2 linked regions of the Homo sapiens genome follow. The protein of the gene in region 1 interacts with the protein of each later gene in a pairwise test. Each region holds a gene or a part of one and is shown on either strand. Other genes may lie near its edges.

Evidence for each region.
Region 2: the proteins of CEACAM8 (region 1) and ZNF16 interact in a two-hybrid assay, tested with the Homo sapiens proteins (one study listed by IntAct).

What each region holds. Positions count from the first base shown.
Region 1 is NC_000019.10:42,575,662-42,589,506, reverse strand, and holds the end of CEACAM8 (cell adhesion molecule CEACAM8 precursor), read left to right. Parts: coding exon 1-50; intron 51-468; coding exon 469-723; intron 724-1,102; coding exon of another isoform or gene 1,103-1,392; exon of another isoform or gene 1,393-1,591; intron 1,592-5,798; coding exon of another isoform or gene 5,799-5,828; exon of another isoform or gene 5,829-5,985; intron 5,986-6,169; coding exon 6,170-6,261; 3' UTR 6,262-6,301; intron 6,302-8,153; 3' UTR 8,154-9,264; downstream 9,265-13,845. UniProt on the Homo sapiens protein: Cell surface glycoprotein that plays a role in cell adhesion in a calcium-independent manner. Mediates heterophilic cell adhesion with other carcinoembryonic antigen-related cell adhesion molecules, such as CEACAM6.
Region 2 is NC_000008.11:144,944,375-144,961,017, reverse strand, and holds the start of ZNF16 (zinc finger protein 16), read left to right. Parts: upstream 1-10,137; 5' UTR 10,138-10,221; intron 10,222-10,394; exon of another isoform or gene 10,395-10,616; intron 10,617-12,992; exon of another isoform or gene 12,993-13,078; intron 13,079-14,802; 5' UTR 14,803-14,811; coding exon 14,812-15,007; exon of another isoform or gene 15,008-15,105; intron 15,106-16,643. UniProt on the Homo sapiens protein: Acts as a transcriptional activator. Promotes cell proliferation by facilitating the cell cycle phase transition from the S to G2/M phase.

The sequences.
Region 1 (13,845 bases):
GAACCCAGCGAGTGCAAACTTCAGTGACCCAGTCACCCTGAATGTCCTCTGTGAGTATCTTCTGTTCCTCTGTGGCCCAGGCCACCAGCCCAAATCCACGCAGCCAGAGGCCAGGCCTCTCAGTCCCTCTCAGCTCCAAAAATGCAGATTCCCCACCCACCCCTAGAAACCCAGCTCGTCATGACTTTCTGCCCCAGGCAAACATGGGTAGGCCTAGCCTTGACCAAGAATAAGAGGGGAGGGGGTGCTCCTGTCATGGGAGACTTGGAGTCCACATCTTCTGATGGGAGAAACAGGTAAATGTCTCGGACTCTGTCTCAGTAGAAACAGCGGGGGTTTGGTTGGGGTTGGTTGGGACTTGGCTCAGGTTTGTGACTTGGCTCAGAGGGACACTGTGGCTCTTCCACAGACCAGGAGCTTCCCCTTCCCTCTGATGACATCACCTGTGACTTTATTCTTTTGCTCTAGATGGCCCAGATGCCCCCACCATTTCCCCTTCAGACACCTATTACCATGCAGGGGTAAATCTCAACCTCTCCTGCCATGCGGCCTCTAATCCACCCTCACAGTATTCTTGGTCTGTCAATGGCACATTCCAGCAATACACACAAAAGCTCTTTATCCCCAACATCACTACAAAGAACAGCGGATCCTATGCCTGCCACACCACTAACTCAGCCACTGGCCGCAACAGGACCACAGTCAGGATGATCACAGTCTCTGGTAAGTGGATCCCTGGAGCACTGGCAGTATGTTTTCTGGTAGAGTCTATCTGGCTTTCAGAGATGAGCCAGAAAAAAAGTTTTATTCCCAGCCTGTGTCCAACAGCACAAGCAAATCCCCAACTTTTCTCCTAAACCCTCCCAGTTTATCTCTATAGACTCTCTTCTGCCTGTTTTTCTGATTTCTCTTGGCTGACCTCGGGGCTGACCTGAGAAACGTGGAGAGGGGCCTTCGTCAGCCCCAGAGCCCTATGTCATGGAAAGGACTTCACCAAGGGGGAAGAAGGAGGGTCCTCAAGGTCAAGTTGCTTTTCTTTGTCACCAACACATGGCACCCCTGTTTCTGTTACCCCTTTGTTTTCTTTTACCTATGCCATTAGCTGCAAGAAACATCCAAGGCTTTGAAACAAGCCCACAACGTTCCCCAAATGGGAGGAGGAGCCCCTTGGATGACGGAGGAGCAGCTCAGACTGCTCCCATCTCTGCTCCCAGCTCCCTGGTGACAGGCCCTGCCCTGACTCCACCTGGGGTGGGACCCAGGTGTATGGAAAAGGTGCTCAGGTGGCCTATCCCAAATCTGGCTAAATCAAGTTGCCAGTTGAAGCCAAGCCTCCCCCCAGTCAGGCTGCACAAAAATGGGAAGACAGGGAGCCTCCGGGAAGACTCCTGAGCAGTGTCCTAGCTCTGAAGTCACGGGCTGCATGAGGCTGTGGATACAACACAGAGGACAGTGAGTGATGCACACTTGGAGACACAGGGAGATTCAGCCACAGGGTCTCTGCATGAGAGGGAAGGGGTAGTGCCAGTTGCCCAGGCTGGAGTGCAATGGCACTATCTCGGCTCACCCTCCGCCTCCTGGGTTCAAGCAATTCTCCTGCCTCAGCCTCCCAAGTAGCTGGATTACAGGCATGTGCCAACACGCCCAGCTAATTTTGTATTTTTAGTAGAGATGGGGTTTCTCCATGTTGATCAGGCTGGTCTCGAACTCCCGAACTCAGGTGATCCACCCGCCTTGGCTTCTCAAAGTGCTGGGATTACAGGCATGAGCCACCACTCCCAGCCACCATTAACTATTTCTATGCGTGCAATTTAGTGTTATGTAACCATCACCACCATCCATTTCCAGAACTTTTTCATCTTACCATATTAAATAAACTTCTCTGCCCAATAAAGAGTAACTCTCACTCCTTCTCCCTCTAACCCCTGGCAACCTCCATTCTACTTTCTGTCTCTATGTAATTGATTATTCTAACAACCTTATATAAATGGAATTATATAATAGGTGGCCTTTTGTGTCTGGCTTGTTTCACTTAACATAATGTTTTTAAGGTTCATCCATTTTGCACCATGTATCAGAATTTTCTTCCTTGTTAAGATTGAAGAACATTCCATTGTATGGATACACCTCACTTTTCTATCCACTTATCTTTCAATGGACTTTGCAGTTGTTTCCACCTTTTGGCTATTGTGTGACTAATGCTGCTGTGAACATCAGTGTACAAATATCTGTTCAAATCCCTTCCAATTCTCTTGCATATATGTCCAGAAGTGGAATTGCTGGATCCAATGGTAATTCTTTGTTTAATTGTTTGAGAAACAGCCATACTGTTTTCCACAGTGGCTATAACATTTCACACTTCCATCAGCAATGCACTAGAGCTCCAATTTTTCCACTTCCTTAAAAACACTTGTTGTTTGTGTGTGTGTGGTTTTTTTTTAATCAAAGCCATCCTAATGTGTTTGAGGTATTCTATCATTGGGGTTCTGATTTGCATATCTCTAAGTATCAGTGATGTTGAGCATCTTTGCATGTGCTCATTGGCCATTTGTATATCTTCCTTGGAGAAATCTCTATTTCAGTCTTTTGTCCTTTTTTAGTTGGGTTTTTGGATTTTTGCTGTTGTGGATTTGTAGTAGTTCTTCATATACTCTGAAAATTGATCCCTTATCATACATGATTTACAAATATTTTTCCCACTTCAAGGTTGCCTTTTCACTTCCTCGACAATGTTCTTTGATATATAAAAGTTATTGATTTTCATGAAGTCCAACTTACCCATTTTTTCTTTTGTTGCCTATGCTTTTGTTGTTATAACCAAGAAACCACTGTGAAATCCAATGTCATGGAGTTTTTTTCCCTGTGTTTTCTTCTGAGAGTTTTATAGTTTTTACTCTTACATTTGGTCTTTGATCTACTGTGGGTTAGTTTTTTGTATATGGTGTCAGGTAAAGGTTCAGCTCATCTTTCTGCATGGATTTCCAGCTTTCCCAAAATCATTTGCTGAAAAGACTGCACTTTCCCCATTGAGTGGTATTGGCATCCTTATCAAATATCATTTGGCCATATATGCAAGCATTCCTTTCTGGGCTTTCTGTTCTATTCCGCTGGTTTCTGTCTTCCTTTACGCAAGTACTGCATTGTATTGATTACTGTGGCTTTGTAGTAAATGCTGAAATCAGGATTCAGCATTTTTTTTTCAAGGTTCCTTTTTTCATGATTGGTTGGCTATTTTGAGTCCTGAAATTCCATATGAACTTTAGGATAGATTTTTCTATTTCTGCAAAAAAATGTCATTGGAATTCTGATAGAAATTGTGTTGAATCCATAGCTCACTTTGGGTGGTATTATCCTCCTAACAATACCGTGTCTTCCAATCCATGAAAACAAAATGTCTTCCCATTTTTTGAGGTCGTATTTAATTTCCTTCAGCAATGTTTTCTAGTTTTCAGAATACAATCCTTTCACCTCCTTGGTTAAACTTATGCCTAAGTATTTTATTCTTTTTGATGTTAATGTGAATTAAAATTTTTTTCTTAATTTCCTTTTTAGATTGTTCATTGTTAGTGTATAGAAATGCAACTGATGTTTGCATGCTGATTTTGTATCCTGCAACATTACTGAATTTATTAATAAATTCTAACAGGTTTTTTTCATCCTTAGAGTTTTCTACAAAGAAGTTCAAGTTGTCTGTGAACAGACAGATAATTTTACTTCTTCTTTCCAATCTGAAAGTCTTCTTTTTTTCTTGCCTAATTTCTCTGGCTAGGACTTGTAATACTATGTTAAATAGACGTGGCAAAAGCAGGCATCCTTGTCTTGTTCCTGATCATAGGGGGAAAGCTTTCAGTCTTTCTCTATTGAGTATGATGTTAGCCTTGGGCTTTTCACATACTGCCTTTATTATATTGAGATAGTTTCCTTCCATTCATACTTAGCATGTTTTTATTAAGAAAGAATGTTGAATTTTGTCAAATGAAATTTTTATTCAATCTTCCTACTAATTATAGGTCTATTCAGATTTTTTGTGTGTGTTTCTTGGAATTTGTCCATTTCATCTAGGCTATCCAATTTATTGGCATACAATTATTCATAGTACTTTTGTAAACAATATTTCTCTAGAATTGATATATAATATCTCCATTTTCTTTTCTTTCTTTCGTTTTTTTTTTGTTTGTTTTTTTTTTTTTTTTGAGAGAGAGAGAAAGACGAGTCTCACTCCTTAGGTCAGCCCAGGCTGGAGTGCAGAGGTGCGATCAAAACTCACTGCAGCCTCAACCTCCTGGGCTCAAGCAATCCTCCCAACTCAGCTTCCCAGGTAGCTGAAACTACAGGTGCATACCATCATGCCCAGCTGAATTTTTGTTTTAATTTTGTAGAGACAGGGTCTCCCTATGTTGCCCCAGCTGGTTTCAAACTCCAGGCCTCAAGCAATCCTCCCAATTTGCCTTCCCAAAGTGCTGGGATTGAAGGTGTAAGCCACCATGCTGGGAGTCCATTTTCATTTCTGATTTTAGTAATTTCCATCTTGTCTCTTTTTTTCTTAGTCAGTCTAGTTAATGGTTGGCAATTTTGTTGATCTTATTTTGAAGAACCAACTTTTGGTTTCATTGATTTCCTCTATTGTTTGTCCATTCTCCATTTCATTTATATCCACTCTAATCCTTATTACTTCCTTCATTCAATATATTTGGGTTTAGTTTGTTTTTCTCCTGTACCATGAAGTTGCAAATTAGGTTGTTGATTTGAGATGTTTCTTCTTTTTTAATGTAAGACTTAACAGTTATAAATTTCTTGCACAAGATTCTTAACTTCTCTGAGCCTCTGATTCCTCAACTGAAAATTGCAGTAACAGTGTTTGCTTCATAGCATTGTTTTAAGAGTTTTATGTAATCATCAATGAAACCTTCAGCAAAATGCCCCACACAGAGGAAATGTTTCATAAATTTTAGCTGATATATTACTACTGTTATCATTAGCTTGAAGCTGAGTAGTCCTAGAATCAAATCTCAAGTCTACTTCTCACCAGCCATATGACATCAGGAAAGTTTTTTCACCACTCTAAGCCTCTGTCGTTTCATCTGTAAAATGGAAATAATGTTCTACCCAAGAGAGTTATTGTATAAATCAAATGAGGTAAAGTATTTAGCACAGGGCCTGGCCCATAGGAGCTGCCCCTCAACAGTAGCTAACATAGCATTAATCATCAGCCTGAGTTGACTGGTGAGGGCCAAAAGTAAATGGTTCCAATAGAAATAAAGAAACAGATGCAAAAGGTTGTGTGTGTGTGTGTGTGTGTGTGTAAAAGGTATCTTAGGTAAATACACACACATATAAAAAAAAGGCAACACAGGAAACACGAGGACATGGTTACTGGTTACACGTGAAAGAGAGAAAAAAAGCTAAGTGCAAAGAATCAAACCTGGTATGTTAGTTTTTAACCCACTGAGATGCAACCAAGATGAGATTAGACACGCAAGATAATTTACTAGGAAAAACACCTGTGAGGGAAAATGGGGCAGGTGTGAGAGGAGCCTGGGAGAGCCCTCAGACCACGATGCAGATTTGATTCCTGTGAAGGAGAAAGAAAAAGAAGTTTTAGATAGCAGTGCAGTTCTAAGTGAGTTTAGGCAAGGCTGATGGGGCGTCCTCCAACTAGTCACCCATCAGAGTTAAACAGAGTCTCACAAAACTGGGCTTGCTTCCATACCCCTGCTGGGAGCCCCTGGGAAGAGAGGTCTCTGTGCAAAGGAGGTGGTCAATTTGGAATGCACTGACCTGGGCCTTCTGTCAATCAGCTCCCTGCCATAGAGACCTGCCACAACTAAGACACTGAGAAAAAGATGCAACCATGAAAAGGTGGAAAGTTCTAATGACACATAAAATAGCAATCAGCTTTTTCACATCACAAAGCCTTCAAAATATCTGAGTAAAGAAATGCCAGGATGAAATTGACCGAAGACTGATCGTCAACCTAGAAACATGGTGAGAGGAAAAAATCCTGCAAGAATATAGTTGGCTAATCACGTCCCAGCAACCTTCCCACAAAAATAATGTATTCCTTGAAAAAACAAGTAGAGACTACTTCATGCTAGGAGCTGGTTCCTGGGGTACCCCACTGTAAAATGGCATCAACTTCATTCCTTCTCTTCTTTTCTTTCCATGACAGATGCTTTAGTACAAGGAAGTTCTCCTGGCCTCTCAGCTAGAGCCACTGTCAGCATCATGATTGGAGTACTGGCCAGGGTGGCTCTGATATAGTAGCTCTGGTGTAGTTTCTGCATTTCAAGAAGACTGGCAGGTATGATGGCCTTTCCTCTTGTCCTGTTTCCTGCAGGGCTGACCGCCATGCTTGGGAGAGAGACCTGTATCCCGGGAATGGATCTCCTCCTCCTCCCAATAAACTCCTGCTTCTCAGCACTAATTCCTGCAGGTCTCTTCTTCCCTGGTCTGCATGCTCCCTGTACCCCACTGTCTCTTAGATGTGATTATTCCCAGCCTCTGCTCATTTGTTTCCCAGATTCAATACACTATGAAAGTCTTTTGATCCTTTCTTAACATCTCTCACTTGTGTCATTTTATCCATTCCCATAGACCTCAACAACTGCTCGAAGTCCTGCTTGACTTCTTGTCTCTAGTATTTGAAATCTTCCTTGCATATGATTGTCTCATTACCTTCCTAAAATCTAGTTCACTCACTTACTCAAGAATCTTCAGAGGCCTACTCTGGCCTATTTGATAAGTTCACATTTCTTCTCTTTACTAATTCTTCTCACTTCCATTCCCTCTACTCCCTAGTATAATTCCTCCATCCTAATTAGAACTGTCTTCCTACACTTCCCTGCGCATCTACCCCATATACACATAGAATTCTTAGTTCCAATGCTATGCCTAGAAACAGGGTAATCTCCCATCCACTATCTGAACTGTGGAGTTGCCCACATACCCTTCAAAGCAAGCAACCTCTGACCTCATGGAGAACAACGACTCTAGCATTAATGTGTGAACCTGAGATTCAGGACACAGCCTACGTGTGGTTGAGAACCTTTTCCTGATGACCAATTCATGTGTTCATGAAAGATACAGAAATGAAAAAGGCAAGATCCCTACCCCAGAGAACATACAGCCTAAGACAGGAGATAAGATATGAAAAATAATCATAATACCAAAATAGAAAAAAGTGAATGCCACAAGAAATCAGAGAAATCTGATGGGAAATATAGCCACACATTGGAATCACTGAGAAATGTTTTTTTAAATGATGCTCAAGCCCCATCCATAAATTCTTACCTACTATCTGGAGTGGGACCCAGGCATTGGTAATTTTTAAGCCTTCCCAGATGCTACTAACATGTAACCAGGATGGAGAACTCCTGTTCTAATAGGTAGCACATGAGGCTAAAACAATGGTTCTTTAGCTGGGAGTATTAGAATTTCCTAGAAAACTTTTTCAACATATACAAGCCTATATTTTGCTGGCCCTGTTCATTAATGGGCTCCACCAAGAACTCAGTAATCCAGTTGAGAAACAGAAGCTAAGTGGAAAAGCCACCTTATTTTATATATATATATATATATATATATATTTTTTTTTTTTTTTTTTTTTTTTTTTTTTTTTGAGACGGAGTCTCGCTCCGTCGCCAGGCTGGAGTGCAGTGGCACAATCTCGGCTCACTGCAACCTCTGCTTCCCAGGTTCAAGCAATTCTCCTGCCTCAGCCTCCCGAGTAGCTGGGATTACAGGCACCTGCCACCACGCCCAGCTAATTTTTCTATTTTTAGTAGAGACGGGGTTTCACCATGTTGGTCAGGCTGGTCTCGATCTCATGACCTTGTGATCCACCCGCCTCGGCCTCCCAAAGTGCTGGGATTACAGGCATAAGCCACCACGCCCAGCCTTACTTGATATGTTAAATTACATGGAAAGCATTGTCAATTGATAAGTGGTGCTAAACCTTCTCTAAGTTATATTTACGGTTATGTTACCGATATGAGTGTTCCAAAAATTATGAGTTTCCTAGAAATCGAATATGTTATCAGTCATAATGTCATATGCCACAGAAGTAACTAAATTTCTATGTGGCTGTGTCTTTATCATAATGAGCTCTCCTCAGAGTTTTAACCATAGTCATTTTCAATCTTTGTCATTCACAGACAGTTGTTTTTATTCTTCCTCAAAGCATTTGCAATCAGCTACCATTCAAAATTGCTTCTTCTTCAAGATTTATGGAAAATACTCTGACGAGTACTCTTGAACACAAGTTCCTGATAACTTTAAGATCACGCCACTGGACTGTCTATGAACTTGCAAACAGGCTGATACCTTTGTGAAGTTGCCCACCAAAACACAGAAGGAAAAAAACATGAATTTCATTGAACTAAATAATAATGAGGATAATGTTTTTAAGATTTTTTTTTTTTTTTTTTTGAGATGGAATCTCGCTCTGTCGCCCAGGCTGGAGTGCAGTGGCACGATCTCAACTCACTGCAAGCTCCGCCTCCTGGGTTCACACCATTCTCCTGCCTCAGCCTCCTGAGTAGCTGGGACTACAGGCGCCTGCCACAACGCCCGGCTAATTTTTTGTATTTTTAGTAGAGACGGGGTTTCACTGTGGTCTCAATCTCCTGACTTCATGGTCCGCCTGCCTCAGCCTCCCAAAGTTCTGGGATTACAGGTGTGAGCCACCGCGCCCAGCCCGTTTTTAAGATTTTTTATTTGAAAAATTGCCAATTCTTTAAGTGTTTTCTTTTTCAGATTTATGAATTTCTTTATCTTTTAAGCTATCTATACCTTACTGCAATTTGGTAAAGCAGACTTTTGTGAACAAAAATTATAACATTTACTTTTGCTCCCTACCTGACTGCCACAGAACTGGGCAACTATTCATGAGTATTCATATGTTTATGGTAATTCAGTTATTTGCACAAGTTCAGTGAGAATCTGCTGTCTTTATAATGGGATATAGTTTAAAACATTGGTTATATTACCAAGGCTTTGATTGGGATGTTATATTTGAGAAAATACAGAGAATGATAGATTAACGGAGTGTCTAATCTATCGTGTCAACCCCAAATTTTTACGTATGAGATCCTTTAGTCCACCCAATGGCTGACAGTAACAGCATCTTTAACACAACTCTTTGTTCAAATGTACTATGGTCTCTTTTAGAGTCAGACTCCTAGACTCACTTGTTCTCACTGTCTGTTTTAATTTAACCCAGGCATGCAATGCTAGATAATAAAATTGCTCCCTATTGGCTGATCAGAGAGGAGTCTGTGTAGTTTATGATGCTTCTTGTTGCACATGGATAAATATATCGGGTATTATAGAGTCTCAGTTGCAAAAATTAACAAACATGCTACTTGGTTAAAATGGCTACACTCATCTGGTTCATTCTTTTATCTATTCTATTTCAGTTGGTTTGCATCTTACCAAAGGTGCATACTCCAAACTCTTAACATTATCTTCCTCATAGTCATACTACTGGTCTCCCTGGTGTGCTGTAATCTCTAAAAGTTTTAAGTGTTTGCGTGCTGCCATCCATCAAATATCAAATGGTCTCTATTTGGCTGGAACTACATAAACTCAAAGAAATGTGTGATCAGGAGGATATCATAACCTATAAACAATGGAAGCCAAAAATGATGATAACTGAGAGTAATGCTAATGCTTTAAGCTTTGGTCACACTCTCACTTAAGTGAGAGTCTAAAGACTCCAAATTAGAGCCACTCACACTAAATGCTGCATACTCCAACTGGAATTTTAAGGAAGCAGATCTCAAAACAGACCAATGTTTTCTGAAAACAGAAGATTCCAGTCTCCCTGAGTCAACATCATAAGGAAGTCCCCTCTGCTTTAACATTTACCCCAAAAAGAGTAACCTGAAGTACCCTGATGTTAACCAATCCATTTATTTCTATGGCTCTGTCTACTGGTTCCAATTTGACAAAACCCATTGCTCTGTTATTATGTTGCCCAGGGGGAGCTATCACTGTATGTGTAGAGTGAGAGCTGCCCCAAACCCTGAATCACAATTAAAAGCCAATCAGATCTATAACTACATTAGTTGAAATTTTGTCTTCTGATGCATGTTCACAGCCAGCAATGGTTAGTGGAGTCTCAGACTGCAGCATTTTCACCCTGACCTTCCTGCCTCACTCTTTCACTTACAAGGACCCTTCTGATTACACTGGGCCACCCTAGATTATCCAGAATAACCTCCCCATCTCAAGAGTGAAGTCTTTTTGCCAAATAAAGTAACATGCACAGGTTCCATGGATAAGGATGTGGACATTTTGGGGAGGCCATTATTCTGCCTAACACTGGTAACTTCCATAAACATCACCCACAACAAAAATTTCATTTGCCTTCTTTCTATATCTCATTGTTTTGTGTGAATCACAGGCAAGAGCACAAACTTTGAGGTGAAACACACCAGCTCTGCTATGAACTGGCTGGATGATCCTGGACCACTCACTTCACCTCCTACAGCGTTTTCTCATCTGCAGCACAAAGATGACTCTTACTGTTATCAGAAAATGACAGTCAAAGAGTAAATTAAGATGTGTAAGGTATTAGACACAGAGGCTGGTACCTGATGAGCACTTGGTAAACATTCCTTTCAGTCTGTTCTTTTCTCTATCCCATTTCTCTCATCCTCACCCATCTTCTCCTTCATCTCCTCTCTCTTCATCGACTTACATACTCTTAACTTGCCATTTAGAAAGAAGTCATGCTCCCCATTCTCTCGTGACTCTGCTAGAATGTTCTTGTGATAGAGTCTGCCATCCACTCAAGACAGCCCACATTTTTTATACAAAGAGGTCTGCTTAAAACAAGAAGTCCTCTTTATGTTCACATAAATTTATATGCACTTTCTCTTAACTTACGCATACCAGTCCCAATTCTGCCCTGTTAATTCATACATGCACTTCCGTATTTCACACTTCTTCAGTCTTTCTCTTTACAAACTATAAACAAGAATAGTACTGAGACAAAAATAATAACCAGGGCTACAAGTGGGGATTCCTTTAGCAAAATGAATGTTTTCCTTTAACAAGATGAATGTTTTCCTTTGACAAGATGAATGCTATGTGCAAGGCAGCCCTGAAGCCCTTTTCTGTACTTGGCTTACATCAACGCCATTTGAGTCTACGACACATTTTTAGACAATAATTGTGACAGAAGCCACACCCATTCTGGGTATTTCTGCTGTTAGGTAAAGGCATTTTCACAGAATCTTGTGCATGAGCTACTGCTCCCCAATCCTTCCACTCCTGAAGTTAAGCTGCTTCTGCTTAACCATCTTCATCTCCGGTTGGCCTGCTAGGACCCTGGCTAGAAAATACCCCCTCATCCTACACGTCCAGGGTGGCACCTTTTCCTATTCCCATAATCATAATAGTTTGCACTGACTTAAAACTCAGTATGTGCCAGGAACTATCCTAAGATCTTTCCATGTAGTTAACATCTTCACAAAAATTCCTGGATGTTATCCCCATTTTTACAGATTAAAAAAATGAGGCAGGCTGGGCACGGTGGCTCACAACTGTAATCCCAGAACTCTGGGAGGCTGAGGCAGGTGGATCACAAGGTCAGAAGTTCAAGACTATCCTGGCCAACATCGTAAAACCCCATCTCTACTAAAAATACAAAAAAAATAGCCGGGCGTGGTGGCAGGCACCTATAGTCCCAGCTATTCGGGAGGCTGAGGCAGGAGAATGGCGTGAACCCTGGAGGCAGAGCTTGCAGTGAGCCAAGATCGTGCCACTGCACTCCAGCCTGGGCAACAGAGTGAGACTCCATCAAAAAAAACAAAAAAACAACAAAAAAAAAACGAGGCAGAGAAGTAATGTACCCAGTATCACACACCCAACTCCATAATTTAACCTCATCCTCCACTTCATCTGGGAAGAGGATACCCTGAGATTTCCAAGGTCTCCTGAATGACATACACCTTCCAGAATGATTTTTGCCCCCTCTACTTTCAGGATTTGACAAAGAGCCAGCATTTTGTTTTCTGTCTCACCCTTCACTTATGTACCTGTTCCCTAATGCTACACTCACAACTGCACAGCCCTGCATAAAAGCTAGCTTTGAGGAATCTCAGTCTCTTTTGGAAAAAAACAGAGCCAGGTTCCCAGTCATTATAAAGTCAGTTTTACTCAATTGTCAACTATTTTTACAGCCTTTCTCTGGTCATAAAAGGAGTTCCCTATGAATAGAAAGTGTAATGGGAAGGAAGTAGGAGAAGGGTGAGTTCCCATTATGGCCACAAAGAGGAAAAGATTCCAAATCCAGTAGCAGTCATAAAACACACCCAGAGTGGGTGGCTCTGAGAAATGACAGTCCCATCTGCCTCTTTTCATGCCTGTTGGCCTCTGATTTCCTTCTCAGCCTGTTCATCCTGGCCTTGCCTTCTTAGGCTAATACTAATGGCCTGGAGCTGGGGCCAGACCAGGGCACACGGCACTGAATGAGGAGAGGGAGGTAGAGGAGGCAGAAAGGGAGAAGAGTGTTTGACTCGTGGGGACCTGATTCACCTAGGTACACATCACCTGGGCAGCAAAGGGATCAGTGAAGGCCTGTGCAAGACTCATGGTGGTCATCCAGAATGATTGACTGAGGCAAGGGTCTTGACCAGTTAAGGTTTATTGAGCCAGAGCTTGAGGGTGCACCCTGGGAAAACATGAATCACAGAAAACCTCTGTGGGTGTGTTCTCTCTGAAGAGGTTGCAGAAGGCTTAGTATTTATATATTTCCTTACAGGGGGGAAGACAGGTAGAAAGAGATGGGATAGGTGGAAGAATAATTGATCTCATTTTGCCTTTGTTCTGTGCCTGGGAAGATAAATATTATCAGAATAAAACTTAACAGGCTTTAGTTTTAGGAGCTAGATTTTGATTGCACACCTGAAGTTATAATTGACATGCCTTGTTTTATGAAACGCTATACATCTTGAAAGATTTTGAGGCCAGCAAAGAACTATTTAGAGGGCAGTCATCTGGAGATCCCTGAGGCTTTTTGCCTTCCTGTTGCCCCAACCCCGCCTCCCACTTTTTTTTTAAGAAGCAAGGTCTTGCTCTGTCACCCAGGCTAGGGTATAGTGACATGATTGTAGCTCACTGCAGCCTGGAACTCCTGGGCTCAGGAGGTCCTCCCACATCAGCCTCCTGAATAGCTGAGACTACAGGCATGCACCACTGCACCCAGCTAATTTATTTTAGTTTATTTTTTGTAGAGATGTGGTCTCATTTTGTTGCTCAGGCTAGTCTTGAACTCCTGGCTTCAAGCGATCCTTCCACCTTGGCCTTTCAAAATGTGAAATTACAGGCCTGTGCCACCACACCTGCCCACCTCCAACATTCTTCTATATCTTTCAGAGAAATTACTGTTAAATACATGACTTTGTGGCTATGTTTCATCTGATCTTACATCACTATGAAGGCTCATTCCTAGGAAGTCATCTCCCATGGAAAAGGGGGTGAAGTCAAATCAGAAAAGGACCAAGGACTAATTACAGCAACAACAACAACAACAAAGTATAATCCTGGAATCCAACTGAGGATACACAACTGCCTCCTCAATTAGAGCAATTCTTTGGGCCATGATCACTAACACTTTCAGTTGCATGTTGGCTCACCTCTAATGTCTACAGCAGTCTATAGACTCATTTTTCTTTTTCTTTTTTTTTTTTTTTTTTTTTTTTTTGAGACAGAGTCTGGCTCTGTTGCCCAGGCTGGAGTGCAGTGGCGCGATCTCAGCTCACTGCAAGTTCCGCCTCCCAGGTTCACGCCATTCTCCTGCCTCAACCTCCCGAGTAGCTGGGACTACAGGCTCCCGCC
Region 2 (16,643 bases), on another chromosome or scaffold:
CACCCTCCTTATCCTGCGCCCCTTGTATTGTATGCAATAAATATCAGTGTGCCCAGCCATTCGGGGCCACTACCAGTCTCCACATCTTGAGGGTAGTGGTCCTGGGCTGAACTGCTTTCTCTTTATCTCTTTGTCTTGTGTCTTTATTTATTACAATCTCCCATCTCCACATATGGGGAGAACACCCACTAAGCCCCATAGGGCTGCACCCTACAAAATCCAGCATCCCTTTATGATTAAAACCTTCAGCAAAATTGGCATACAAGGGACATACCTCAATGTAATAAAAGCTATCTATGATAAACCCACAGCCAACATAATACTGAATGAGTAAAAGTTGAAAGCATTCCTTCTGAGAACTGGAACAAGACAAAGATGCCCACTCTCACCACTTCTATTCAACATAGTGCTGGAAGTCCTAGCCAGAATAATTAGAAAAGAGAAAAAACAAAGGGCATCCAAACCAGTAAAGAGGAAGTCAAGCTGTCACTGTTTGTTGATGATAGGATCATATACCTAGAAAACCCTAAAGACACCTCCAAAAAGCTCCTATAAATGATAAGTGAATTAGCAAATTTCAGGATACAAAGTTAATGTACACAAATCAGTAGCTCTGCTATACACCAACAGCAACCAAGCTGAGAATCAAATCAAGAGCTCAACCCCTTTTACAATAGCTGCAAAAAATGAAATACTTCAGAATATTCCTAACCAAGGAGGTGAAAGACCTCTACAAGGAAAACTACAAAACACTGCTAAAAGAAATCATAGATGACACAAACAAATGGAAACACATCCCATGCTCATGGATGGGTAGAATCAATATTGAGAAAATGACCATACTGCCAAAAGTGATCTATAAATTCAATGCAATTCCCATCAAAATACCACCATCATTCTTCACAGAACTAGAAAAAAAATCCTAAAATTCATATGGAACCAAAAATGAGCCTGCATAGCCAAAACAAGACTAAGCAAAAAGAACAAACCTGGAGGGATCACGGTACCTGATTTCAAACTGTCAGGCCTCTGAGCCCAAGCTAAGCCATCATATCCCCTGTGACCTGCACGTACACATCCAGATGGCCGGTTCCTGCCTTAACTGATGACATTCCACCACAAAAGAAGTGAAAATGGCCTGTTCCTGCCTTAACTGATGACATTGTCTTGTGAAATTCCTTCTCCTGGCTCATCCTGGCTCAAAAGCTCCCCCACTGAGTACCTTGTGACCCCCCACTCCTGCCCACCAGAGAACAACCCCCTTTGACTGTAATTTTCCTTTAACTACCCAAATATTATAAAACGGCCCCACCCCTATCTCCCTTCACTGACTCTTTTCGGACTCAGCCCACCTGCACCCAGGTGAAATAAACAGCCATGTTGCTCACACAAAGCCTGTTTGGTGGTCTCTTCACTTGGACGTGCATGAAATTTGATGCCGTGACTCAGATCGGGGGACCTCCCTTGGGAGATCAATCCCCTGTCCTCCTGTTCTTTGCTCCATGAGAAAGATCCACCTACGACCTCAGGTCCTCAGACCGACCAGCCCCAGAAACATCTCACCAATTTCAAATCTGGTAAGTAGCCTCTTTTTACTCTCTTCTCCCACCTCCCTCACTATCTCTCAACCTCTTTCTCCTTTCAATCTTGGCGCCACACTTCAATCTCTCCCTTCTCTTAATTTCAATTCCTTTCATCTTCTGGTAGAGACAAAGGAGACATGTTTTATCTGTGGACCCAAAACTCTGGCACCAGTCATGGACTGGGAAGGCAGCCTTCCCTTGGTGTTTAATCATTGCAGGAATTCCTCTCTGATTATTCACCCACATTTCAGAGGTGTCAGGCCACGCAGGGACGCCTGCCTTGGTCCTTCACCCTTAGTGGCAAGTCCTGCTTTTCTAGGGGAGGGGCAAGTACCCCAACCCCTTCTCTCCATGTCTCTACCCCTTCTCTGCCTTTCTGGGGGGCAATAAACCCCCAACTCCTTCTCCTTCACCCTTAGTGGCAAGTCCTGCTTTTCTGGGGGAGGGGCAAGTACCCCAACCTCACATCTCTGTGCCCTGATCCCTTATTTCCATGCCCCAACCTCTTATATCTCTGCACCCTGATCCCTTATTTCCATGCCCCAACCTCGTATCTCTGGACCCCAACCCCTTTCCTGCTTTTCTGGAGGGTAAGAACCCCCAAACCACTTCCCTCCGTGTCTCTACTCTCCCTTTTCTTTAAACTTGCCTCCTTCACTATAGGCAACCTTCCACCCTCCATTCCTCCATCTTCTCCCTTAGCCTATGTTCTTAAGAACATAAAACCTCTTCAACTCTTGCCTGACCTAAACCTAAATGTCTTATTTTCTTCTGCAATGCCGCTTGACCCCAGTACAAACTCGACAGTGGTTCCAAATAGCCAGAAAATGGCACCTTTCAATTGTTTCCATCCTGCAAGATCTAAATAATTCTTGTTGTAAAATGGGCAAACGGTCTGAGGTGCCTGATGTCCAGGCATTCTTTTACACATCAGTTCCTCCCTAGTCTTTGTGCCCAGTGCAACTCATCCCAAATCTTCCTTCTTTCCCTCCCACCTGTCCCCTCAGTCCCAACCCCAAGCGTCACTGAGTCTTTCTAATCTGCCTTTTCTACAGACCCATCTGACCTCTCCCCTCCTCCCCAGGCTGCTCCTCGCCAGGCCGAGCTAGGTCCCAATTATTCCTCAGCCTCCACTCCTCCACCCTATAATCTTTTTATCACCTACCCTCCTCACACCCAGTCCGGTTTACAGTTTCATTCTGTGAGTAGCCCTCCCCACCTGCCCAGCAATTTCCTCTTAAAAAGGTGGCTGAAGCTAAAGGCATAGTCAAGGTTAATGCTCCTTTTTCTTTATCAGACCTCTCCCAAATCAGTGAGCGTTTAGGCTCTTTCATCAAATATGAAAAACCCAGCCCAGTTCATGGCTCGTTCGGCAGCAAACCTGAGACGCTTTACAGCCCTAGACCCTAAAAAGTCAAAAGGCTGTCTTATTCTCAATACACATTTTATTACCCAATCCTCTCCTGACATTAAATAAAACTCCAAAAATTAAATTCCAGCCCTCAAACCCCACAACAGGACTTAATTAACCTCACCTTCAAGGTGTACAATAATAGAGTAGAGGCAGCCAAGTAGCAATGTATTTCTGAGTTGCAATTACTTGCCTCCAATGTGAGACAAATCCCAGCCACATCTCCAGCACACAAGAACTCCAAACGCCTGAACCACAGCTGCCAGGAGTTCCTCCAGGACCTCCTCCCCCAGGAGCTTGCTACAGGTGCCAGAAATCTGGCCACTGGGCCAATGAATGCCCACAGCCCAGGATTCCTCCTAAGCCATGTCCCATCTGTGCGGGACCCCACTGGAAATCAGACTGTTCAACTCACCTGGCAGCCACTCCCAGAGCCCCTGGAACTCTGGCCCAAGGCTCTCTGACTGACTCCTTCCCAGATCTCCTTGGCTTAGCTCCTGAAGACTGACACTGCCTGATTGCCTGGGAAGCCTACAGGACCATCACAGACACTCTAGGTAACTCTCACAGTGGAGGGTAAGTCCGTCCCCTTCTTAATCAATACAGAGGCTACCCAGTCCACATTACCTTCTTTTCAAGGGCCTGTTTCCCTTGCCTCCATAACTGCTGTGGGTATTGACGGCCAGGCTTCTAAATCTCTTAAAACTCCCCAACTCTGGTGCCAACTTAGACAATACTCTTTTAAGCAATCCTTTTTAGTTATCTCCACCTGCCCAGTTCCCTTATTAGGCCGAGACACTTTAACTAAATTATCTGCTTCCCTGACTGTTCCTGGACTACAGCTACATCTCATTGCCGCCCTTCTTCCCAATCCAAAGCCTCCTTTGTGTCCTCCTCTTGTATCCCCCCACCTTAACCCACAAGTATAAGATATCTCTACTCCCTCCTTGGTGACCAATCATGCACCTCTTACCATCTCATTAAAACCTAATCACCCTTACCCCACTCAATGCCAATATCCTATCCCACACCATGCTTTGAAAGGATTAAAGCCTGTTATCACTCGCCTGCTACAGCATGGCCTTTTAAAGCCTATAAACTCCTCTTACAATTCCATTTTGCCTGTCCTAAAACCAGACAAGCCTTATAAGTTAGTTCAGGATCTATGCCTTATCAACCAAATTGTTTTGTCTATCCACCTGCAGTGCCCAACCCATACACTCTTTTGTCCTCAATACCTTCCTCCACAACTCACTATTCCATTCTTGATCTTAAAGATGTTTTTTTCACTATTCCCCTGCACCCCTCATCCAAGCCTCTCTTTGCTTTCACCTGGACTGACCCTGACACCCATCATCGGTCCCAGCAGCTTACCTGGGCTGTGCTGCTGCAAGGTTTCAGGGACAGCCCTCATTACTTCAGCCAAGCTCTTTCTCACGATTTACTTTCTTTCCACCCCTCCACTTCTCACCTTATTCAATATATTGATGACCTTCTTCTTTGTAGCCCCTCCTGTGAATCTTCTCAACAAGACACACTTCTGCTCCTTCAGCATTTATTCTCCAATGGATATCAGGTATCCCCCTCCAAAGCTCAAATTTCTTCTCCATCCGTTACCTACCTTGGCATAATTCTTCATAAAAACACACGTGCTCTCCCTGCCGATCATGTCCCACTAATCTCTCAAACCCCTACCCCTTCTACAAAACAACAACTCTTTTCCTTCCTGGGCATGTTTAGATACTTTCACCTTTGGATACCTGGTTTTGCCATCCTAACAAGACCATTCTATAAACTCACAAAAGGAAACCTAGCTGACCCCATAGATCCTAAATCCTTTCCCCACTCCTCTTTCCATTCCTTGAAGACAGCTTTAGAGACTGCCCCCACTCTAGCTCTCCCTGACTCATCCCAACCCTTTTCATTACACACAGCCGAAGTGCAGGGCTGTGCAGTCAGAATTCTTACACAAGGACCAGGATCGCGTCCTGTAGCCTTTTTGTCCAAACAACTTGACCTTACTGTTTTAAGCTGGCCATTATGTCTCTGTGCAGTGGCTGCTGCCACCCGAATACTTTTAGAGGCCCTTAAAATCACAAACTATGCTCAACTCACTCTCTACATTTCTCATAACTTCCAAAATCTATTTTCTTCCTCATACCTGATGCATATACTTTCTGCTCCCTGGCTCCTTCAGCTGTACTCACTCTTTGTTAAGTCCCACAATTACCATTGTTTCTGGCCCGGACTTCAATCCGGCCTCCCACATTATTCCTGATACCACACCTGACCCCCACAACTGTATCTCTCTGATCCACTTGACATTCACCCCATTTCCCCATATTTCCTTCTTTCCTGTTCCTCACCCTGATCACACTTGATTTATTGATGGCAGTTCCACCAGGCCTAATCACCACACACCAGCAAAGGCAGGCTATGCTATAGTACAAGCCACTAGCCCACCTCTTAGAACCTCTCATTTCCTTTCCATCGTGGAAATCTATCCTCAAGGAAATAACTTCTCAGTGTTCCATCTGCTATTCTACTACTCCTCAGGGATTATTCAGGCCCCCTCCCTTCCCTACACATCAAGCTTGAGGATTTGCCCCCATCCAGGACTGGCAAATTAGCTTTACTCAACATGCCCTGAGTCAGATAACTAAAATACCTCTTAGTCTAGGTAGACAGTTTCACTGGATAGGTAGAGGCCTTTCCTACACAGTCTGAGCAGGCCACCGCAGTCATTTCTTCCCTTCTGTCAGACATAATTCCTCAGTTTAGCCTTCCCACCTCTATACAGTCTGATAACAGACAAGCCTTTATTACTCAAATCAGCCAAGCAGTTTTTCAGGCTCTTAGTATTCAGTGAAACCTTTATATCCCTTATGGTCCTCCATCTTCAAGAAAAGTAGAACTGACTAAAGGTCTTTTAAAAACACACCTCACCAAGCTCAGCCACCAACTTAAAAAGGACTGGACAACACTTTTACCACTTTCCCTTCTCAGAAGTCAGACCTGTCCTCAGAATGCTACAAGGTACAGCCCATTTGAGCTCCTGTAGAGATGCTCCTTTTTATTAGGCCCCGGTCTCATTCCAGACAGCAGACCAACTTAGACTGTGCCCCAAAAAAAACTTGTCATCCCTACTATCTTCTATCTAGTCATACTCCTATTCACCATTCTCAACTACTCATACATGCCCTCCTCTTGTTTACACAGCTGGTTTACACTGTTTCTGCAAGCCATCACAGCTGATATCTCCTGGCGCTATCCCCAAACTGCCACTCTAAACTCTTGAAGTAAATAAATAATCTTTGCTAGCAGGACTATGCTGAATCTCCTTAGGCACTCTCTAATTAGATGTCCTGGGTCCTCCCAATTCTTAGACCTTTTATACCTGTTTTTCTCCTTCTCTTATTCCATTTACTTTTTCAATTCATATAAAACCATATCCAGGCCATCACCAATAATTCTACATGATAAATGTTTCTTCTAATAACCCCACAATATCATCCCTTACCACAAAATCTTCCTTCAGCTTAATCTCTCCCATTCTAGGTTCCCACGCTGCCCCTAATCCCGCTCAAAGCAGCCCTGAAAAACATCACCCATTATCTCTCTATACCACCCCCAAAAATTTTCACCATCCCAACACTTTACCACTATTTCACTTTATTTTTCTTATTAATATAAGAAGACCAGAATGTCAGGCCTCTGAGCCCAAGCTAAGCTATCATATCCCCTGTGACCTGCACGTACACATCCAGATGGCTGGTTCCTGCCTTAACTGATGAGATTCCACCACAAAAGAAGTGAAAATGGCCTGTTCCTGCCTTAACTGATGACATTGTCTTGTGAAATTCCTTCTCCTGGCTCATCCTGGCTCAAAAGCTCCCCCACTGAGTACCTTGTGACCCCCACTCCTGCCCACCAGAGAACAACCCCCTTTGACTGTAATTTTCTTTTACCTACCCAAATCTTATAAAATGGCCCCACCCCTATCTCCCTTCACTGACTCTCATTTCAGACTCAGCCCACCTGCACCCAGGTGAAATAATGCTCACACAAAACCTGTTTGGTGGTCTCTTCACATGGATGCACATGAAACAAACTACACTATAAGGCCATAGTCACCAGAACAGCATGGTACTGCTATAAAAATAGGCACATAGACCAATGGAACAGAATAGAGAACCCAGAAATAAACTCAAATACTTACAGCCGACTAACCTTCAACAAAGCATACAAAAACATAAAGTGGGGAAAGAACACCCTATTCAACAAATAGCCCTGGGATAGTTGGCAAGCCACATGTAGGAGAATAATCCTGGATCCTCATCTTTCACGTTATAAAAATCAACTCAAGATGGATCAAGGACTTAAATCTATGACCTGAAAATATAAAAATTCTACAAGATAACATCAGAAAAACCCTTCTAGACATTGGCCTAGGCGAAGATTTCATGACCAAGAACCCAAAAGCAAATGCAACAAAAACAAAGATAAATAGGTGGGACTTAACTAAAGACCTTTTGCACAGCAAAAGGAAGAGTCAGCAAAGTAAACAGACAACCCACAGAGTGAGAGAAAATCTTCACAATCTATACATCCAACAAAGGACTAATATGCAGAATCTACAAGGAACTCAAACAAATTAGCACGAAAAAATAATCCCATCAAAAAGGGGGCTAACAGCCGGGCGTGGTGGCTCACTCCTGTAATCCCAGCACTTTGGGAGGCCGAGGCTGGTGGATCACCTGAAGTTGGGAGTTTGAGACCAGCCTGATCAACATGGAGAAACCCCATCTCTACTAAAAATACAAAATTAGCCCGGCATGGTGGCGCATGCCTGTAATCCCAACTACTCAGGAGGCTGAGGCAGGAGAATTGCTTGAACTCAGGAGGCAGAGGTTGCAGTGAGCCAAGATCACACCATTGCACTCCAACCTGGGCAACAAGAGTGAAACTCCATCTCAAAAAAAAAAAAAAAAAAAAGTGGGGGGTGCACTAAGGACATGAACAGACAATTCTCAAAACAAGATATACAAATGGCCAACAAACATGAAAAAATGCTCAACATCACTAATGATCAGGGAAATGCAAATCAAAACCACAAAACAATACCACCTTACTCCCACAAGAATGGCCATAATCAAAAATCAAAAAATAATAGATGTTGGCGTGGATGTGGTGAAAAGGGAATACTTCCACACTGCTTGTGGGAATGTAAACTAGTACAACCACTATGGAAAACAGTGTGGAGAATCCTTAAAGAACTAAAAGTAGAACTACCAAGAAATACCATTTCGTCCAGCAATCCCACTACTGGGTATCTACCCAGAGGAAAAGAAGTCATTATACGAAAAAGATACTTGTATATGCACGTTTATGGCAGCACAATTCACAACTGCAAAAATGTGGAAGCAGCCCAAATGCCCATCAATCAACGAGTGGATAAACAAACTGTAGCATATATATATTTATATATATATGTGTGTGTGTATATATGTGTGTATATATGTATATATCTATACATATATAGAGAGTAGTATTCCATCATACATATATATATGATGGAATACTACTCAGCCATAAAAAGGAGTGAATTAATGGCATTCACAGCAACCTGGATGGGATTGGAGACTATTATTCTCAGTGAAGTAACTCAGGAATGGAAAACCAAACATCGTATGTCCTCACTCGTGAGAGGTAGCTAAGCTATGAGGATGCAAATGCATAAGAAGGATACAATGGACTTTGGGGACTGGGACTCAGGGGGAAAGTGCAGGAAGGGCGTGAAGGATAAAAGACTACAAATTGGGTTCAAGGCATACCGCCCAGGTGACGGGTGCACCAAAATCTCACAAATCACCACTAAAGAACTTACTCATGTAACCAAACACCACCACCTATGGAAATAAAAATTTAAAAACCTATGGAAATAAAAAAATTAAAAATAAATAAAAAAATAAACATAAGTTCCAATTTCAGGCCATCTCTTTGTGAATGCATATGACTGTACACTTTCAGAAAAAGGTATGTCACATCTTGAATGCTTTGCTGCTTAGAAATTTCTTCTGCCAGATGCCCTAAATCATCTCTCTCAAGCTCAAAGTTCCACAGATCTCTAGGGTAGGGCCAAAATGTCACCAATCTCTTTGCTAAAGCATAGCAAGAGTGACCTTTACTCCAGCTTCCAATAAGTTCCTCATCTCCAACTGAGAGCACCTCAGCCTGAACTAAAAAAAAAAGGGGGGGGGGTTATCTAGACAGTGTTTCTTAAATTCCAATAGAGTTTGTCATGCATTTTTTATTATGTATTCCTGATTTTGATAGTTTAATCTGCCTGCAAAATGAACGTCAAAATATTTGTGAGGTTTTTTTTGGTTGTTGTTGTTTGTTTCTTTTTTTTGAGACAGGGTCTCACTCTCTCATCAGTGCAACATGTGATCCCGGCTCACTGCAGCCGCACATTCCCCGGCTCAAGCAATCCGCCCACCTCAGCCTCCTGAGTAGCTGGGACTACAGGCGCACACCATCACACCTGGCTAACTTTTGTATTTTTTGTAGAGATGGAGTCTCCCTATATTGCCCAGGCTGGTCTCAAACTCCTAGCCTCAAGCCATCCGCCCGCCTCGGCCTCCCAAGTGCTGGAATTACAGGCGTGGGCCACCGCACCCAGCCTTATTTGTATTCTTTATGTCCAAGTGTACAATTCATTTCCGTATTAGAAACGATCCATGCACAATCTCACGAAAACATGTTATCTACTGAAGGAATCTGAATTCTTCCATTTATCTATCTAATCACTTACTGATTGAATGATTCAGTTCTTCCAAAAAACGTATCCTTAGGTTTTTATCAAACTACCGTCTGTTCCGATTCTGGGGGCCTGTATATTAAAATCTCCCACTACACGAGTATATCTCATTATCTCTGCATTTCTATTAGTGTCCCCTTTTCTTCAGTTGCCGCCTTGTTCAGTGCACGGGTCAACTCTGAAAAAAAGGGGAACAGAAGGGTCTCTGGCCTCAGGGCTAGTGGGACCAGGTCTGGGGCTGAACCACAGAGTCGCCCCGGCCTCCCGCCATCTAGAGAGGCTACGCTGCCCCAGATAGAACGAGCGGCGGGCCGGAATTCGGGGCGGGACTTCCGGGGGTCAGCCGGCGTTGGCTGAGACGTCTTCGTGCCACGGTGCTGCCTCCTTTCCAAGCGCGACCCGTTGAGGTTAGTTCCGCGAAGCTCCACGCCTGGGACCCTGCGTCTGGTTGTCCCTGATGCCCCCGTGGTTGGGGGGCCCAGGGGCCTCTCAGGGCTCAGACGGGGCGGGCAGCGAGCTGGGGACCCCGGGCGGGGGCGGAGCCGCGCGGGGGGTTGTGGGAGCGCGGGGGGGGCGGGGCGGGGGCAGCTCGGCCTGGGCTGGAGGTCAGAGCCTCTGGGGGCTGCCTCCGGTAGGGGGTCTCCGGGGAGACCCCGGGGTAAGGTCGCCGCGAGGGGCCGAGCCAGGACTCCGCCCACAGGCTGGTGGCGTTCCCGCCTGTCGGTGCCACCATTCGAGCTCGGGCGGAGCGACGGGGTGAAGGGGTGGCCTGCCCTTCCACACCTGTGGGATATCTCATCAGGTGGGACGAGAGACTGAGAAAAGAAATAAGACAAAGTGTAGAGAAACAACAGTGGGCCCAGGAGACCGGCACTCGGCACACTAAGGACCTGCACCGGCACCGGTCTCTGAGTTCTCTTAGTTTTTATTGATTATTATTTTCATTATCTCAGCAAGAGGAATGCAGTAGGAGAGCAGGGTGATAATAGGGAGAAGGTCAGCAAAAAAAAGCATGTGAGCAAAAGAATCTGTGCCATAATTAAGTTTAAGGGGAGGTACTATGCCTGGATGGGCACGTAGGCCAGATTTGTTTCTCTCCACCCAAACATCTCAGTGGAGTAAAGAATAACAAGGCAGCATTGCTGCCAACATGTCTCACCTCTCACCATAGGGCAGTTTTTCTCCTGTCTCAGAATTGAACAAATGTACAATCGGGTTTTATACCGAGACATTCAGTTCCCAGGGGCAGGCAGGAGAGAGTGGCCTTCCTCTATCTCAACTGCAAGAGGCTTTTCTCTTTTACCAATCCACCTCAACACAGACCCTTTACGGGCGTTGGGCTGGGGGACGGTCAGGTCTTTCTCATCCCATGAGGCCATATTTCAGACTATCACATGGGGACAAATCTTGGACAATACCCGGCTTTCCAAGGCAGAAGTCCCTGTGGCTTATCGCAGAGCATTGTGCCCCTGGTTTATTGAGACTGGAGAATGGCGATGACTTTTACCAAGCATCTGCTTGTAAACATTTTGTTAACAAGGCACATCCTGCACAGCCCTAGATCCCTTAAACCTTGATTCCATACAACACATGTTTTTGTGAGCTCAAAGTTGTGGCAAAGTGGCTGGGGCAAAGTTACAAATTAACAGCATCTCAGCAAAGCAATTGTTCAAGGTACAGGTCAAAATGGAATTTCTTATGTCTTCCTTTTCTACACAGACACAGTAACAGTCTGATCTTTCTTTCTTTTCCCTACATGGGGCAGCAGTGCGATGGGGTGGTTCCCAGCGCATGGGAGACAAGGGTGGGTTCGTGGTTCCTGGTGTTCCATGAGAAGTCAGAGATGCACTGAGCAGAGCTGGGGGAGAAAGGGGGTTTCGCTCAGCCTCAGATGTCCTGCCTGGGAGGCCCAGTCAGTAGTGGAGTCGCTCTGCGTGTGGAGGAGGTACTCTGGGAAGGGAGGAGAGTTTGGGCCAGTTCTTCCCCAAGGGGGAAGGTGCTGAGGGATCGGCCAGGGCCCATCCTGTGGCTGCTTGCTATGGGAGGGTGGTGGCTGGCTCTTCCAGTTGTGTGACTCCTAAAGAGCAGGCTTAGCCTCTAGCCAGGAGACTCCACTTCCAAGCTTGTTCAGGCTGTTGGCCGAATCTGTTTTTCTTGAGGTTGGTCCTCAGAAGTGCTGGCTGCCAGCCTGAGTGATCCTTAGCTCTCCGAGGTCCTTCCATGTGGCCCTCAGATCTTTCTCAGGCTTTTAAGGGCTCATTTGATTAGATTGGGTCCACCAGGGTAATTCACGTCCATAACCTTAATTCCCTTTGCAAAGTCCTTTTTGGTATGTAGTGTAACATAAGCACAAGTTCCAGGGATTAGGATATGGACCTGGGTGAGAGGGGGCATTTATTCTGTGTCCTGGTAAGCAAGATCCCACACATAATGAAGTGAGAAAAATAAGGTGTGAAGCCATAGCATAGTTGGGTGTAATTTATCATTAAAAGGCAAACATATGTTTATATATTTGCTGTGTAAACCTAGATTAATCTGGAACGGTACACTAGAAACAAGGGAAACTGTGTGGATGTTTGGGGAATTTTTCACCATAAATCCTTTTTACCTTTTAAATTTTGAGGTGACTATGCCCCTATTCAGAAACAATGAGAATTTAAAGTATTTTTAAATAAAATGAACTAAATAAATATTGCAGATTATTACATCACCACTTGGATGGGGAGAGGTTTCCCTCGAGGAAACTGGGCATCTGCACTGTAAGGGCAGGCAGATGCAGTCACAGAGGGCCTTGTCACCCCCATCGCCCATGTCTCCTCCATTTCTGCTGCCACGTGGTAGGCACCTTAGTGCTGTACCTGCTTTGAATCTCATCTCCCACCATTCCTCTGAGCACCCTGCCAAGTTAATCTTGAGATATTAGTTTTGTCTCTCCTGACACAGAAATGTGGCCAGTGTTTCACCTTCATCTGGCAGCCAAGGCCCCTTATCATTGGTCCATAGTAACCATCCCTGTGAGCTCTGTTCATATCTCCTTGCCTTCTCCTTGATGGTGATCTGAGTCCAGGAGCACCACCCAGCCCTTCTTTCTTCCCCACATGGCCTATGGGTGACACGTACCATCACGTTGACTCCCTGCACCATCCTTCTGCCACCTTTCTTCACATCCCCTTTGCAGATCCCCTTGACCACACCCTCATTCTCAGCTGGTGCTCATGAAGGACAGAAGAGTCAATGTCAGTACAATGTGAGTGAAGGGCTGAGGTATGTCAGTGCTCCCAGTGGGCACCCGGGCAGGGTATGGTGCATTTACACAGTGAGGGGTGGGGGAATCAGTAACATGTGAGGAGCCCGTCATGCCGCCACGTGGGAGTGTCCTCTCTCCTGCTCACAGGGAGTAGTTAGGACTGGAGATGAGCCCAAGTTTGTGAATCTTAACAAGGGTGTTGATGCCTCAAGACTGGACATAATCACCAAGGAAGTTGGTGGCAGTGCAGAAGTGCACACTGGGGTGCCAACATGAAATGGGGAATGAGAGGCTAGGAGGGAGTAGCTGGTGCAAGTAAAGATGGGAACACCTGCTGTGGGTGCTGCCAGGATGGTGCAACTCAGATAGAACTGACCACTAGGATTTGGTAGGCGTTGACACATAATGATGACATGTGGGGCTGCAGCACAGGCTGCCCCTGGCTGTTCACCCTTTGGAGCTGCTGTTCTCCCACTCTAGGTGGGTCTGGCCTGCCCAGCTTCAGAGCATTGTGAATGTCAGCAACAAGGAGTGAGAAGAGTGGTCACAGCAGGATACAGGCCCACAGCAGGATACAGGCCCACAGCAGGATACAGGCCCCACAACAGGACACAGGCCCACAGCAGGATACAGGCCCGCAGCAGGGTACAGGCCCGCAGCAGGGTACAGGCCCCACAGCAGGGTACAGGCCCCACAGCAGGACACAGGCCCCACAGCAGGACACAAGCCCAACAGCAGGACACAAGCCCAACAGCAGGACACAGGCCCACAGCAGGACACAGGCCCACAGCAGGGTACAGGCCCACAGAAGGGTATGGCCCACAGCAGGGTACAGGCCCCACAGCAGGACACAGGCCCACAGCAGGGTATGGCCCACAGTAGGGTACAGGCCCACAGCAGGACACAGGCCCAACAGCAGGACACAGGCCCAACAGCAGGATACAGGCCCACAGCAGGACACAGCCCCACAGCAGGACACAGGCCCACAGCAGGACACAGGCCCACAGCAGGGTACAGGCCCACAGAAGGGTATGGCCCACAGCAGGGTACAGGCCCCACAGCAGGACACAGGCCCCACAGCAGGACACAAGCCCAACAGCAGGACACAGGCCCAACAGCAGGATACAGGCCCACAGCAGGACACAGCCCCACAGCAGGACACAGGCCCACAGCAGGACACAGGCCCACAGCAGGGTACAGGCCCACAGAAGGGTATGGCCCACAGCAGGGTACGGGCCCCACAGCAGGACACGGGCCCACAGCAGGGTATGGCCCACAGTAGGGTACAGGCCCACAGTAGGACACAGGCCCAACAGCAGGACACAGGCCCAACAGCAGGACACAAGCCCAACAGCAGGATACAGACCCACAGCAGGACACAGGCCCACAGCAGGGTACAGGCCCCACAGCAGTACACAGGCCCCACAGCAGGACACAGACCCTGTGGGGGCTGCCCTCCTATCATGGCAGGTCTGGGCACCATGACCCACTTTACCTTAGGGTCAGCATCTTGCCCCTTTGTACTGTGGCCCTGGCTTTTGAGTCTGTGTCTCCATGGCTGACTCCCTCTTTTTAGGTCCAAGATCAGGAAACACAGCATCAGCCCCTGAGACCTGGCAGCACCAGGCCCTCTTCAGGTCTTGGGCTGCAGGGGTGGAGGAAGAGACCCCGGCCTGATGGGAGGATGAATCCCTAGAGCTAGCCTGTCTGTAGACTCACCTGTGTTCTTGCCGGTTTTCAGGTCCTTGTCATGCCCAGCCTCAGAACTCGCCGTGAGGAGGCAGAGATGGAGCTCTCAGTTCCAGGACCATCCCCCTGGACCCCTGCAGCCCAGGCCCGTGTGAGAGATGCTCCTGCTGTGACCCACCCTGGATCTGCAGCCTGTGGTACCCCCTGCTGTAGTGATACTGAGCTGGAAGCCATCTGCCCTCACTATCAGCAGCCAGGTACTTTAAGAACAGTTCTCCGCTGGTGCCCTTATTCTGGGGAAGTGATGTCCATGGAACCCTGTGCTTACCCCTAGGAGGCATCTGTGTCATCACAGGTAGGGAGGGTGACGGGGTACTCTGACTCAAGGAGCCAAGGCTGGATGTCAGCAAGGAAGTTAACCTAGCCTGGCCCCTGGCACCTTGAGCAGAACTGTGATTTCCCCACTTGACACGAAGAGGTATGACATGATGGCCACCAGCGTCCTTTGATTTGCCCTATACTCCTGACCCCTTCCCAATTCAACAACCAGGCTGGTGGCAGCCCTCTCCCCTCAGGACTCTACTCTGGTCCAGGGCTTTGTACTGTGGTTACCCATACAGTTGGCCATCTAAAGCCTAGGAAGAAAAGCTGAGGAGTTTCTTGTGGGGAAATAGAGGCATTCAAAAGCACCCTTGGCCCGGGTGTGGTGGCTCATACCTATAATCTGAGCACTTTGAGAGGCCAAGGCAGGAGGATTGTATGAGGCCAGGAGTTCAGGACCAGCCAGTATAACATGGCAAGACCCTATCTCTACTAAAAAATTAAGAAAGGCTGGGTGTGATCACTCTCGCCTGTAATCCCAGCACTTTGGGAGGCCGAGGTGGGTGGATTGCTTGAGGCCAGGAGTTCGAGACAAGCATGGCTAACATGGTAAAACCCTGTCTCTACTAAAAGTACAAAAATTAGCCAGGTGTGGTGGCACATACCTGTAATTCCACCTACTTGGAAGGCTGAAGCACAAGAATTGCTTGAACCTGGTAGGCAAGGGTTGCAGTGAGCTAAGATCATGCCACTGCACTCTAGCCTGGGCAACTGGAGTGAGGCTCTGTCTCAGAAAAAAATACATAAATTTGAAAAAAAAAAAAGCACCTATATATTTTGGGGAATCCAGGAAGTCACATGCATGCGCAGGACTGGGTGTGTGCTCAGAAAAGACCTGTTAAGACCATAAGCTTTCTCAAGAACTCTGTCTAATCTCTAGGCTCAGTGAAGGCAGTCAACTCAGAAAGAGTTGTAAACAGCGTTTAAAAAGTACCCCAACACAGAGTCAATCCACAAAGACTGGGAGAAGTGTTTTGTGTTGGTTTTTCTCTTGATAAAATCTCTGTCAAAACACTGGTTGAACACAAGCTAAAGAAAAAGACTTCAGTGACTGTACTCGACAAAGAATAGTCTTTGCAAAAATAGTTTGGAAAAGTCACTAAATGAACATGTGACTCTAGTCTTCAACAATCAAAAACAGCAAAGCCTGGAGGGGGGATACCACATTTTAATATTCAGTTGTGCAGTTTTTAACAAAGCAAAAATCATGAAGCATATAACGAAGCAAAAAAATATGTCCCATTCAAAGGAAAAAAGTAAACTGACAAAAAGTGTCCTGGAGAAAGCACAGACATTGGACTTAAGTAGACAAAAACTTCAAATCAACTGCCTCAAATATGCTCAGAGAGGTGAAAGAAACCATAGAGAACTAGGCTGGGCATGGTGGCTCACACCTGTAACCCAGCACCACGGTGGCTCACACCTGTAACCCAGCACCACGGTGGCTCACGCCTGTAACCCAGCACCACGGTGGCTCACGCCTGTAACCCAGCACCACGGTGGCTCACGCCT